Linked DNA regions of Homo sapiens. The protein of the gene in region 3 purifies or fractionates together with the protein of the main gene of each other region. This does not show direct contact. Each region holds a gene or a part of one and is shown on either strand. Other genes may lie near its edges. The genes, in order: PLAA, UBL7 and OR2G6.

What was found.
Region 1: the proteins of OR2G6 (region 3) and PLAA purify together in Homo sapiens (affinity purification with mass spectrometry; one large-scale study listed by BioGRID and IntAct). This does not show direct contact.
Region 2: the proteins of OR2G6 (region 3) and UBL7 purify together in Homo sapiens (affinity purification with mass spectrometry; one large-scale study listed by BioGRID and IntAct). This does not show direct contact.

What each region holds. Positions count from the first base shown.
Region 1 is NC_000009.12:26,916,179-26,919,833, forward strand, and holds part of PLAA (phospholipase A-2-activating protein), read right to left. Parts: intron 3,352-3,655; coding exon 3,132-3,351; intron 1,071-3,131; coding exon of another isoform or gene 988-1,070; coding exon 919-987; intron 528-918; coding exon of another isoform or gene 439-527; exon of another isoform or gene 1-438. UniProt on the Homo sapiens protein: Plays a role in protein ubiquitination, sorting and degradation through its association with VCP. Involved in ubiquitin-mediated membrane proteins trafficking to late endosomes in an ESCRT-dependent manner, and hence plays a role in synaptic vesicle recycling.
Region 2 is NC_000015.10:74,454,602-74,458,256, reverse strand, and holds part of UBL7 (ubiquitin-like protein 7), read left to right. Parts: intron 1-1,585; coding exon 1,586-1,705; intron 1,706-3,655.
Region 3 is NC_000001.11:248,521,563-248,525,217, reverse strand, and holds part of OR2G6 (olfactory receptor 2G6), read right to left. Parts: intron 3,608-3,655; 5' UTR 3,572-3,607; coding exon 2,621-3,571; 3' UTR 1-2,620. UniProt on the Homo sapiens protein: Odorant receptor.

The DNA.
Region 1 (3,655 bases), on a different chromosome or scaffold from region 3:
TCCAATCTCTATGACTTAGAGAGGACTGTAGGTTGTCATTTTTATAGCTCACAGTACCAGTCTGCAAGGCCAGTGGATACCTAAACGCTATGATCTCTTCCCAAACTGAGTATACTGTCGAGGAACTCTGTCTGAAGATCCAACAACAGCATTATACAAGATATCAAAAGCCATTCTGAAAATAGAGACTTCTTCAGCTGCCTTAAAGTCCAACTCTGGCACTTTTTCCAGTAGTGTTGATGCTGAGGCATGCATACCTTGGTAAATAAATTCATTTTGAAGAGATACACCAACACTTCAAGGGCTTCAAGAAGGACATTAATAACTTAGATTAGGAAGACTACTCCTGGGTAGTTGGGTGGAATGTCTCCTTCCATGTTAAGTCAAAATATGCCTGGGGAGACTTCTTGATTGTACTGCTCCATCCAATATCAGGGCTCACATGGCTCCTTCTCTGCTCGTGATTGGTAGCATCTCGCCAGTGATAGCACTCATGCTGTGTCTTGGTTGGTGGGTTCCCCTATTATCTAATTTCACAGATAAAAAAAATAGGCTCAGACAGGTTAGGTAACTTGCCAACTTCTCATAGCAAGTAAGTGGTAGAGCCCAATTTTGAACCAAGGTTTGTCTGACTCTAAAACCTATATTCTTAACTATACTGCTCTCCTGGTGGGAAGGACCCCTGGAGAAAACAATGAATTCTAATAATATGCTATTTAAAAGTCACGAGGGAATCTACACAACCACTCCAGGAAAAAGCAAAAATCAGAAGTTAAAGAAAAGGAAATCCATCAAAATTGGAAATGCAGATAAGGGAATTACCAATTACTGGATGACATCTCCAAGATGTAAAGCCATGTGATGCAAGATGCTATACATTTAGTGAAGAAAGATACATGAATCAAAACTACATCCCACCTGTAAAAGGATCTGCTGTGGGTAGTGTGTTAGAAGATCCCGAAGAGCCCGGAACATACCGACCACCACCTGTGCATGCAAAATAAAGAAAAGGCAGAAGTGCACCAAAGTTCTGAATTTTTCAAACAGCACAATGCTTGTTTTAGAAGAACCTACATTTGGAGAAAAACAGAAGAGCAAAACTTTCACATGATAGAATGACAGAAACTATAGTCAGAAGTCTTATAACTGGGAAAAAACTGAAATTTTAATGATTCTCCAAGTTTTGTTTTCTTAACTTTAATGCTTTATTATACCTTAGCCCCAGCACTTAAATATTAAAACTTAATTCAAATATCAAAAGAGAATTGCAGGTAATATCTGACCTAAATATATAAACATACAATCAATTCCTGTCCCTGTTCCTATACAAATTCACAAGAGTTCCTGCTGTTGTTATTGTTATCAAAACCACAGGCACTAAATGTTAATCATTTAGAGCTCTAGGTTCATTAATTCATGTGTCAAACAATGGACTCAGGGCTGGGGATCCAGAAGGGAACAAAATTGCTTATATCCACTGAAGCTTACAACCTACTGGAGAAGAGAATTAGAAAAGGGATGAAAACTACAAAGGAAAGAGACTTCCATTTATACATTTACGAATGTGTGGCGTATGTGCCTATGTTTTGTTAGTACCTCTAGGGAAATAATCAGGTTGTCCACAAAAAAAACAAAAAACAAAAAACAAAAAACAGTAAGGATGCTGAAAAAGTTAAGAGTCTCAGAAGGGCAAAACAAGCCAAGTGCTTCCTAGATTTCCAGACAAAGTCAGCTGCTTTAATTCCTTTCCTGTATCCCACATGCAAAATAGCTTACACAGTACTACAATCTGTGTTCACTCTTGAACTACAGTCTGAAATTCCAACAACAAAAATATCCACATACTAAACAATTATTTTCTTTTTAAGTGCAAGTATTTGGAGGATCAGATCATCTGTAATTCAGTAGTAAGTTACTTTGATAATTTTTTTTAAAATTTTTTGATTTTTTTCAGACGGAATCTTGCACTATCGCCCAGGTTGGAGTGCAATGGTGCGATCTTGGCTCGCTGCCACCTCTGCCTCCCAGGTTCACGTGATTCTCCTGCCTCAGTTTTCCAAGGAGCTGGGATTACAGGCGCACATCCATCACACCTGGCTAATTTTTTGTATTTTTTTTTTTTTTTTTTTTTAGTAGAGACAGGGTTTCGCTATGTTGGCCAGACTGGTCTTGAACTCCTGACCTTGTGATCTGCCTGCCTTGGCCTCCCAAAGTGCTGGGATTACAGGCGTCAGCCACCACACCTGGCCTGATAATTCTATTTAAATCAACATGCAGGTAACATTAGTTTTATTTTATGAATGGGCAATGAAATTTTGAAGTAGAATGAGGAGATAATTTGGGAATGTGGAGTAGCTGTCAGGGAAGAAAAGGTGGATCTACATAAGGATTTGAGACAGGAATATAATACAAAGTCCTCGTAAAACAAGGAAGAGCACTAGCACCTGAAAAATGTTGAGTCAGAAATGATGAGAGGAAAACATTAACAGTAAAGTGCCTATCTCAAAATGTTATTTAGAGGAGGCATTTTATTTCCTCCTACACCAGTCTCCAGAACTCACGTTAATATTACTAGGATTAGATTCCACTTCCTAGGGGCCAGAATTTGGACTAGTACCATTAGGATTACAATTTACAGACTGGTATGAGCACCTAACTGCATTTATAACATGAGATACGATGTATACGATGTTACAAACAATTAACTTAAAATGAACGTGTAGAATACACATCACATATAAACTAAAACTACCCATAGGGTTCACTTTTAGATTTGATGCATGACTGACCAATTTAGCCTCATGTGAAAAAAAGATTTACTAAATTTTGCCAAAATATAATTTTTTAAAAGAAACACTATATAAAAGAACTTACAAGTTTATTTTTGTTTCAAATAACTGAAATTCCATTATAGTATGATTGTATTTTTGAAAGACAACAATTTACTATTATTTCTGTAAAATACAGAATTACTTCATCATTTGAGGCTTAAACATATGAATGTGAAGTAAAACCCTGCTGTAGATATTGGTATTTATTGAAAAAGCTAATCACATGACTATTTGAAAACATCAAAAAAATCAATCAACACTAATGGAACTACATAAGACTCAATATAAACACTAACTTACCTGTAAATGGATCTGAAAAGCTGGGATTCCCAAGTCCCAACATTTGACCTTTTGTGTTATCAATAATAAATTTAGCTACTTGATCCAGAAACATAGGATTCAAATCATTCTTCTGTAAGAAGTTGTATGCAGTTAACCAAGGGTCATCACTGGTATTATATGGCAATTTATATGATGGTCCACCTTCATTGACATCAATTGAGAAAACATAATCAAATTCCTAAAGTAGGAATATAAAAAGGAGATACATGCTTATTATCTGTTCACATATATTAATGACATATACAACATAACACAGATGTGTTCTTTAATAATTACAGTACTTAAACTTTCTCCAAAGTGCAGTGCTAAAATCTTCGTTTTTGGCAGATAAAGATTAACAGCCCCCATCTGCATGTGATGCAAAATTAGTATTTCATTAGGGGATGGGGGTGAGGATGAAGGATGGATTACAACTACATATTAACTCTAGAGCCAAAGCAGAGTTTCCAACTGGTTTGATATCAAGATCAAAATTATCAGCT
Region 2 (3,655 bases), on a different chromosome or scaffold from region 3:
GATTTCACCATGTTGGCCAGGCTGGTCTTGAACTCCTAACCTTGTGATTCTGCCCGCCTCAGCCTCCCAAAATGCTGGGATTACAGGCATGAGCCACCGCTCCTGGCCAACATTGTGAATTCTTTTTCTGAAAGAACAGAAGTTTGGGATGAGTTAGGAAAGGAGAAGTTGGTCAGGGGAGGCTCCTCAGTATATTTGAGGTAGGTCTTCAGGGATGATTAGAAGGATTTTTGCTTGGTTGACTGAGTAAAGGAAAGGCAGTAAAAAAGAAAAAGTGGCGTGGGCAGTCCAGGTGGAGGAGGGAGGAATTTAAATATAATTAAATTACACTGAAAAGGTAATTTTTAATAGCTAAAGGATCCAACTGGCAAGAAAGATGTTTTCAGTCATACCTGGATTGGGTTCATCCTATTTTGTTGTTTTTCCATTGATTTAAATTGGGCAGCCTCCACAATGTTAAACTCCAGAGTTTTTCTGTGGATAGATTCTGTGTGAATCCTTTTTTTTTTTTTTTTTTTTTGAGACGGAGTCTTGCTCTGTTGCCCAGGCTGGAGTGCAGTGGCGAGATCTCAGCTCATTGTAACCTCTGTCTCCCAGGTTCAGGCAATTTTCCTGCCTCAGCCTCCTGAATAACTGGGATTACAGGCCCGCACAACCACAACTGGCTAATTTTTGTGTGTATGTGTGTATATATATATATATTTCTTTTTTTTTGAGACAGAGTCTTGCTCTGTTGCCCAGGCTGGAGTGCAGTGGTGTGATCTTGGCTCACTGCAACCTCCGCCTCCTGGGTTCAAGCAATTCTCCTGCTTCAGCCTCCTGAGTAGCAGGGATTACAGGCGTCTGCCACCATGCCTGGCTAATTTTTGTATTTTTGGTAGAGACGAGGTTTACCATCTTGGCCAGGCTGGCCTTGAACTCCTGACCTCAGGTGATCCACCCACCTCGGCCTCCCAAAGTGTTGGGATTACAGGTGTGAGCCACCGTGCCCGGCCCTAATTTTCGCCATGGCCCAGGTTTCGCCATGTCGGCCAGGCTCCAAAAGTGCTGGGTTTATAGGTGTGAGCCACCACATCTGGCCAGATTCGATGTAAGTCCATTTTATGAGTTTATATTTGCAAATAGTTGTTGAAATGTATTTAATTGGCTAGGCATGGTGGTTCACGCCTGTCATCCCAGCACTTTGTGAGGCTAAGGCAGGAGGATCCCTTGAGCCCAGGAGTTAAGAGACTAGTCTAGGCAACATGGCAAAACCCCGTCTCTACAAAAAACTACAAAAATTAGCTGGGTGTGGTGGCATGTGCCTGTAGTCCCAGCTACTCAGGAGGCTAAGGTGGGAGAATTGCTTGACCCCAGGAGGTTGAGGCTGCAGTGAACCGTGATGGTGCCATTGCACTCAAGCCTGGGCAACAGAGTAAGACCCTGTTTTCCAAAAAAAAAAAAGTATTTGTTAAGTTATTGAATAAGAGTATCTTTTAAAACATGTATCATTCTCCAGCTATCTAATCAAAATAAGGTTCTCGGGACAAAAACCATGTAAATTTGTTTTGAGGAGCAAAATATAAGTGGACAGTTCTTTTTTTAGATCTGATCTACTGTGGTCGGAAGCTAAAAGATGACCAGACACTTGACTTCTATGGCATTCAACCTGGGTCCACTGTCCATGTTCTGCGAAAGTCCTGGCCTGAACCTGATCAGAAACCGGGTGAGTGAGGGGCAGCCCTTAGGCAGGCAGAGTTTCTGTAATATCCGCAAGGGAAGGATCTGTGTGTTCTTGAGGCACAAGCCTGGGTGGAACAAAGGGATGATTTACTGAGCTGATGATAAATGATATCTTTATTACTTATTGGATTAGACCATGCTGATAAACAGAGTCCAATTTTGACCTTCTTACTGCCGGCATCACTAATGGAAGATTTGTTTCTCCATTTTGTTTTTTGTTTTTTGGTTTTTTTGAGACAGTCTCACTCTGTTGCCCAGGCTGGAGTGCAGTGGCACAATCTTGATCTTGGATCACTGCAACCTCCGCCTCCCAGGTTCAAGTGATTCTCATGCCTCAGCCTCCCGAGTAGCTGGGATTACAGGCATGAGTCACCATGCCCAGCTAATTTTTTTTTTTTTTTTTTTTCTGAGACGGAGTCTCACTCTGTCTCACAGGCTGGAGTGCAGTGGTGTGATCTTGGCTCACTGCAAGCTCCGCCTCCCGGGTTCACACCATTCTCCTGCCTCAGCCTCCCAGGTAGCTGGGACTACAGGCGCCCACCACCAAGCCTGGCTAATTTTTTTTGTGTTTTTTAGTAGAGACGGGGTTTCACCGTGTTAGCCAGGATGGTCTCGATCTCCTGACCTTGTGATCTGCCCGCCTCGGCCTCCCAAAGTGCTGGGATTAAAGGCGTGAGCCACTGTACCCGGCCTTCAATTTTTGTATTTTTAGTAGAGACGGGGTGTCTCCATGTTGGTCAACCTGGTCTCGAACTCCTGACCTCAAGCCATCCACCCCACCTCAGCCTCCCAAAGTACAGGCACCATTCCTGGCTTGTTTCTCCACTTTCTAAGTTTGTCATCCACTGTTTCCTAATGGGACAGGGAGTTTGTGTCTACTTAAACTCCTTTAAGTTAACAGTTTATTTTTTAGTGATACAAAGTAAACTTTGTATCCTTTTGTTATTATCGTTGTTCTCATTAGAAAAAAGCTGGAAACTTTTGGCACTTTCCTAATGCTGCAGTTTATTCCCTTGTTAACAAATCTTCCTACAAACTGCCTCAGGTGGTGATTTGTTCAGTTAGCTAACTGCTCTTGCTATACTGGTATTTTCCTGAAGATATTCAAAGAGTATTTAAATAGCTCTTGGAGAAAATATACAAAGCCTCAGATGCCTTTTTGGTTTATAAATAGAAGGTGCTTGGAATTCATGATTTAAATTTTGCATGTGTGTTTTAAAAGCCTCCCTAAGAATAAAGCTAAGCTGTGTAAAAGAGATTAGCTTTGTTACACTGGCAGGTTGACATCTTTTTATAATGTTCATGATTGCTGTGACTAGTTATCAGTTTGAAATTTACCCCCCTTTCAGTTCTAACTGTAAAAGACAAAAATGTCTTTCATACCCTGATGGGAAGTGAGAAAGAGGAACAGAGTTCCTGACATCCAGAGGTTGGCCTGGCACTCACAGCCAGGCCCTGGAATCCTTTTGGGGATCATGAACAATTGTACAGATCCCCAGTAGCAGTCAAGGCCACTCTGAGACCACTATGGATTAAGACAAAAACAAGATCCCTATTATTGCTGAACAGAAACACAAAAACATGAGCATTATCCAAACCACAAAGGTGACCAAGTATCTTTCTATCTTGGCTGATGAGAGTAACAGCTGCTTCTTGGCCAATTACAGCTTCCACCTTGCTCTAGTTTTCCTTCCTTCTAGGTAAGAGTTATTAAGATACTCAATTATAAAATCACTCCCACTGCCTGAAAGCATCCTATCCAGAGTAAAACCTCACTTCTTTAAATTTTTCCCCAAATCAGCCAGACAAAACCAAAATCCTGTAAGAAGTCCTTTCTGGCCGGGTGCAGCAGCTTACGCCTGTAATCCCAGAACTTTGGGAGGCCGAGGTGGGCGGATCACCTGAGATTGGGAGTTCGAGACAAGCCTGACCA
Region 3 (3,655 bases):
ATAAGTACATAATTATAAGCATTCACAAACAAAAGTATGCTCAATGTAGGTATTTAAAAAAGAGAAACTACTCATGTTATTCAATTATAGGGAAGATTTTTAATAAATGGTGGATATTTTTTAGATTAATCAGAAAAATGCTCACATTATAAATAAAAATAGTATGAAATTATACATGTATGATGATTATAAAAGCAGTATAAACATATCCATATCATAGGAAAGCTCTAAATTCAAGAAAGTAGTAACAGGATTTTATTTTCAAATGTGTTCCCATTTTCATCTGCAGTTAAGTAGTTTTTTTAGGTTGCTTTGCCTATGTTATATCTATTATTTTCTGGTTTCCTTTTGGGTGCAAATAACTTACAGCTAAAGATGCTAATTTCAGCAATAAGCAGATATTCTATTTTTTTCTGAATTATGTTTGAATTTATTGTATACAGTAATAATTTGATTTTATTTTCAGTGGGATTTGTATTCCATATTACCTTAAATGGATGTGAGTTTGTCTTTGAAAATGGTTGCTTCACAATTCATATGTAGGTTTTTCTACATATTGTGTTCATATCATTGCTTTACACATGGTTGTCTTTTCACCTGGAGCTATTTCTTTCCTTTAAATGCCACATCTTTTGCCCTGGGGCCATATTCCATGTAAATTGATTGAGACTCTGACACAGGTACATTCTTTCCTATGCTGTGTTGCTCGGGTTATCAGGAATAATGCATTTGTACATGTGACGCTTCCTGTAGAACTACTTCTCTACTTGCATATTGTAAATAAAAACATGTGCTCCTCAGCATGTTCTGCTCAGTTCCCAACTCTCCTCTCCATTACTGGAGGAGGAAAATCACATAAGAATATCCTAGAAGACAAATTTAACCAGGCTTCTTTTCCCTCGTTTTTGTTAAATTGGATATTCATCATTTTGTTTGCTAAAAGTATATTGAAGAGGTGCCAGCTGGACAGGGTATTTGTGAAGAGGCAGCCTGAGTCATTAGTGAATTCTCCTGATGCCTTTTTGTTCTTGTGTGCGCAGCCATTTTGCCTTCAGTCCAGGCTTTGGTAGGAGAGGCAGGTCCAAACGTTATCCTTAACATTCGTAGACAGGCTACAATATTCTCACACCAGGATGAATTATTATAAATCTGAATGTTGGAAGGCTGAGGCAGAGGGATCACTTAAACCCAGGAGGTCAAGGCTGCAGTGAGCCATGATTGAGCCACTGCACTCCAGCCTGGGCAACAGAGCAAGACCCTGTCCAAAAAAGAAAAGTCTAAATCACTTGAAAATTCCACTTCCACCCCAGATTCTGCCTGCATTTTACTCTTCATTTGCATTGATGTTTTCATGCTTTTTTCATGTGTATCATAATGAGAATATGAAGTAAAATTACAACCACAGATTAAATCACTTTTTTCTATAATTGCACAGTTCTCTTAAAATACTTGAGGTTGACGAATTGATGAAGTTCAATCGTTTTGGGAAAAGAAAGCAAGAAAGAGGCTGAGACACACAAAGATACACAGAGAGATAGAGACAGAATTAAATCAGAAAGTAAAAGTTTGGTCAAATATAAGAATACATTTATTAAAATGCTTCTAAATATTTCATTTTTTTTGCTGTTTTGGAAACCAAACATATAACTATGATCGTTAACGTGAGACAGTGTGTGGGATTCATATTTCAAATTTTTGAAGTATAAAATTACATAAGTAACTGTTTTCCAGAGTTTAAGGCCAAAAACAATAACTTATTTTATGAATTTTGTATAAATGTTAAAACACATTTTAGTATATGGCAATTTTACTCAACTTTTAATCAATCTCCTTAATTCAAGTTTGCTTATTTGATTCCTTTAATAAAATATTAGTCATTATTTGCATCCCACAATTCTGTGGAACCAAAGCATCACAACTCTTAATATTTGTGTTTCTCGTGTTGTAAATAAGCCAATAGAGTGGGATGGTTCCATTCTCCAGTTAAAAGTGACATATTCTGGGAAAATGGTCATGTATTTTTTCAGTCTGTTATATACATTGCTTTGCCTAGTTAGAGATATATGTATACATATATCTCAAATGTGAAATGTAGAAATGGTAGTGTGGATCAAGTGCTATGGAAACATATTATGAAACAGTTAATTCTGCACAAGGATGAGAAGGATGGTGTTTCAGGACAGCTAGTGAGTGCAGGTGACATTTCAGCTGAGTTTTGAAGCATTAGTAGAAGTCTATCAGATGGGCTGGCACATTAGAAGGAAATAATGGATACATGAACCTTGATGGCAGGTGGATGAAGGACAAACATTTTTTTCCAGATAGAACACAGGGTCTTGGATTGACAAGAGGAATGTCTGGGAGGATGAACCCTCATGCTGCTTTGGTGTGTTTCTCTTCTTTAGAATTCCAATGCTTCCTAGTCCCTGTGGCTTTGGGATTGACAAGAGGAATGTCTGGGGAGGATGAATCCTCACGCTGCCTTGAGGTGTTTCCCTTCTTTAGAATTCCAATGCTTCCTAGTCCCTGTGGCTTTGGGATTGACAAGAGGAATGTCTGGGGAGGATGAACCCTCACTCTGCCTTGAGGTGTTTCCCTTGTTTAGAATTCCAGGTGTTTCCTAGTCCTTGTGGCTTTGTCCAGCAGCACTACCCAGTATCAGGGTCCTCAAGGCCCCTTTCACATCTTTGTTTCTCAGAGTGTAGATAATGGGGTTTAAAAGTGGGGTGACTATGGTATAGAAAAGAGAAACAAACTTTCCCTGGTTTTTGGATCTCCTATTGGCCGGTTGAAGGTACATGAATATGATGGTCCCATAGAAAATGATGACCACAACCAGGTGAGACGAACAGGTCCCAAAGGCCTTTTGGCGGCCCGCAGCTGATTTTATCCTTAACACAGCTTGAGTGATAAAGCCATAGGAGACTAAGATGAGTAACACCGGGACAATTAGAAAGACTACACTGGCCACAAAGAGTTCTGCCTCGTTGAAAGTCGTATCCACACAGGCCAGTTTGATGAGCACTGGCACCTCACAGAAAATATGATCCAGTGTGCGATGACCACAGAGGGGCAGCTGCACAGTGAGGGAGCACTGAATTAGGGAGGTGATGAGGCCGCTGAGCCATGCTCCACCGGCCAGAGACGCACAGAACCTGGGGTGCATAATGGCTATGTAGCGCAGTGGCCGGCAGACAGCAGCATAGCGGTCATAAGCCATGACGGCCAAGAGAATACACTCAGACGAGCCCAACCCCATGGCCACATAGAGCTGGGCCACACAGCCACCGTAGCTCATGGTTTTGTCTTTCTTATTCATGGTAACCAGCAACTGTGGGGCAACACTGGTGGTAAAGCAGATGTCCACACACGAGAGGTTGCTGAGGAAGAAGTACATTGGAGTGTGGAGTCTGGAGTCCAGACAACATACTAGTATGAGGGCAGTGTTCCCCAGAAGGCTCAAGACGTAGAAGTACAAAATGATGGCAAAAAGAAACCTCTCTAGCTGAGGCTGATCTGAAAATCCCAGGAGAAGAAATCCCTTTTCAGAGCTGTTGTTGGTTTCCTCCATTTTTCCTGCAGCTTCAGGACTCTTCAGCTTCAAATACTAAGTGATTAATATTTGGGGATAGAAAGTAATGAGGTCAAGAATGGT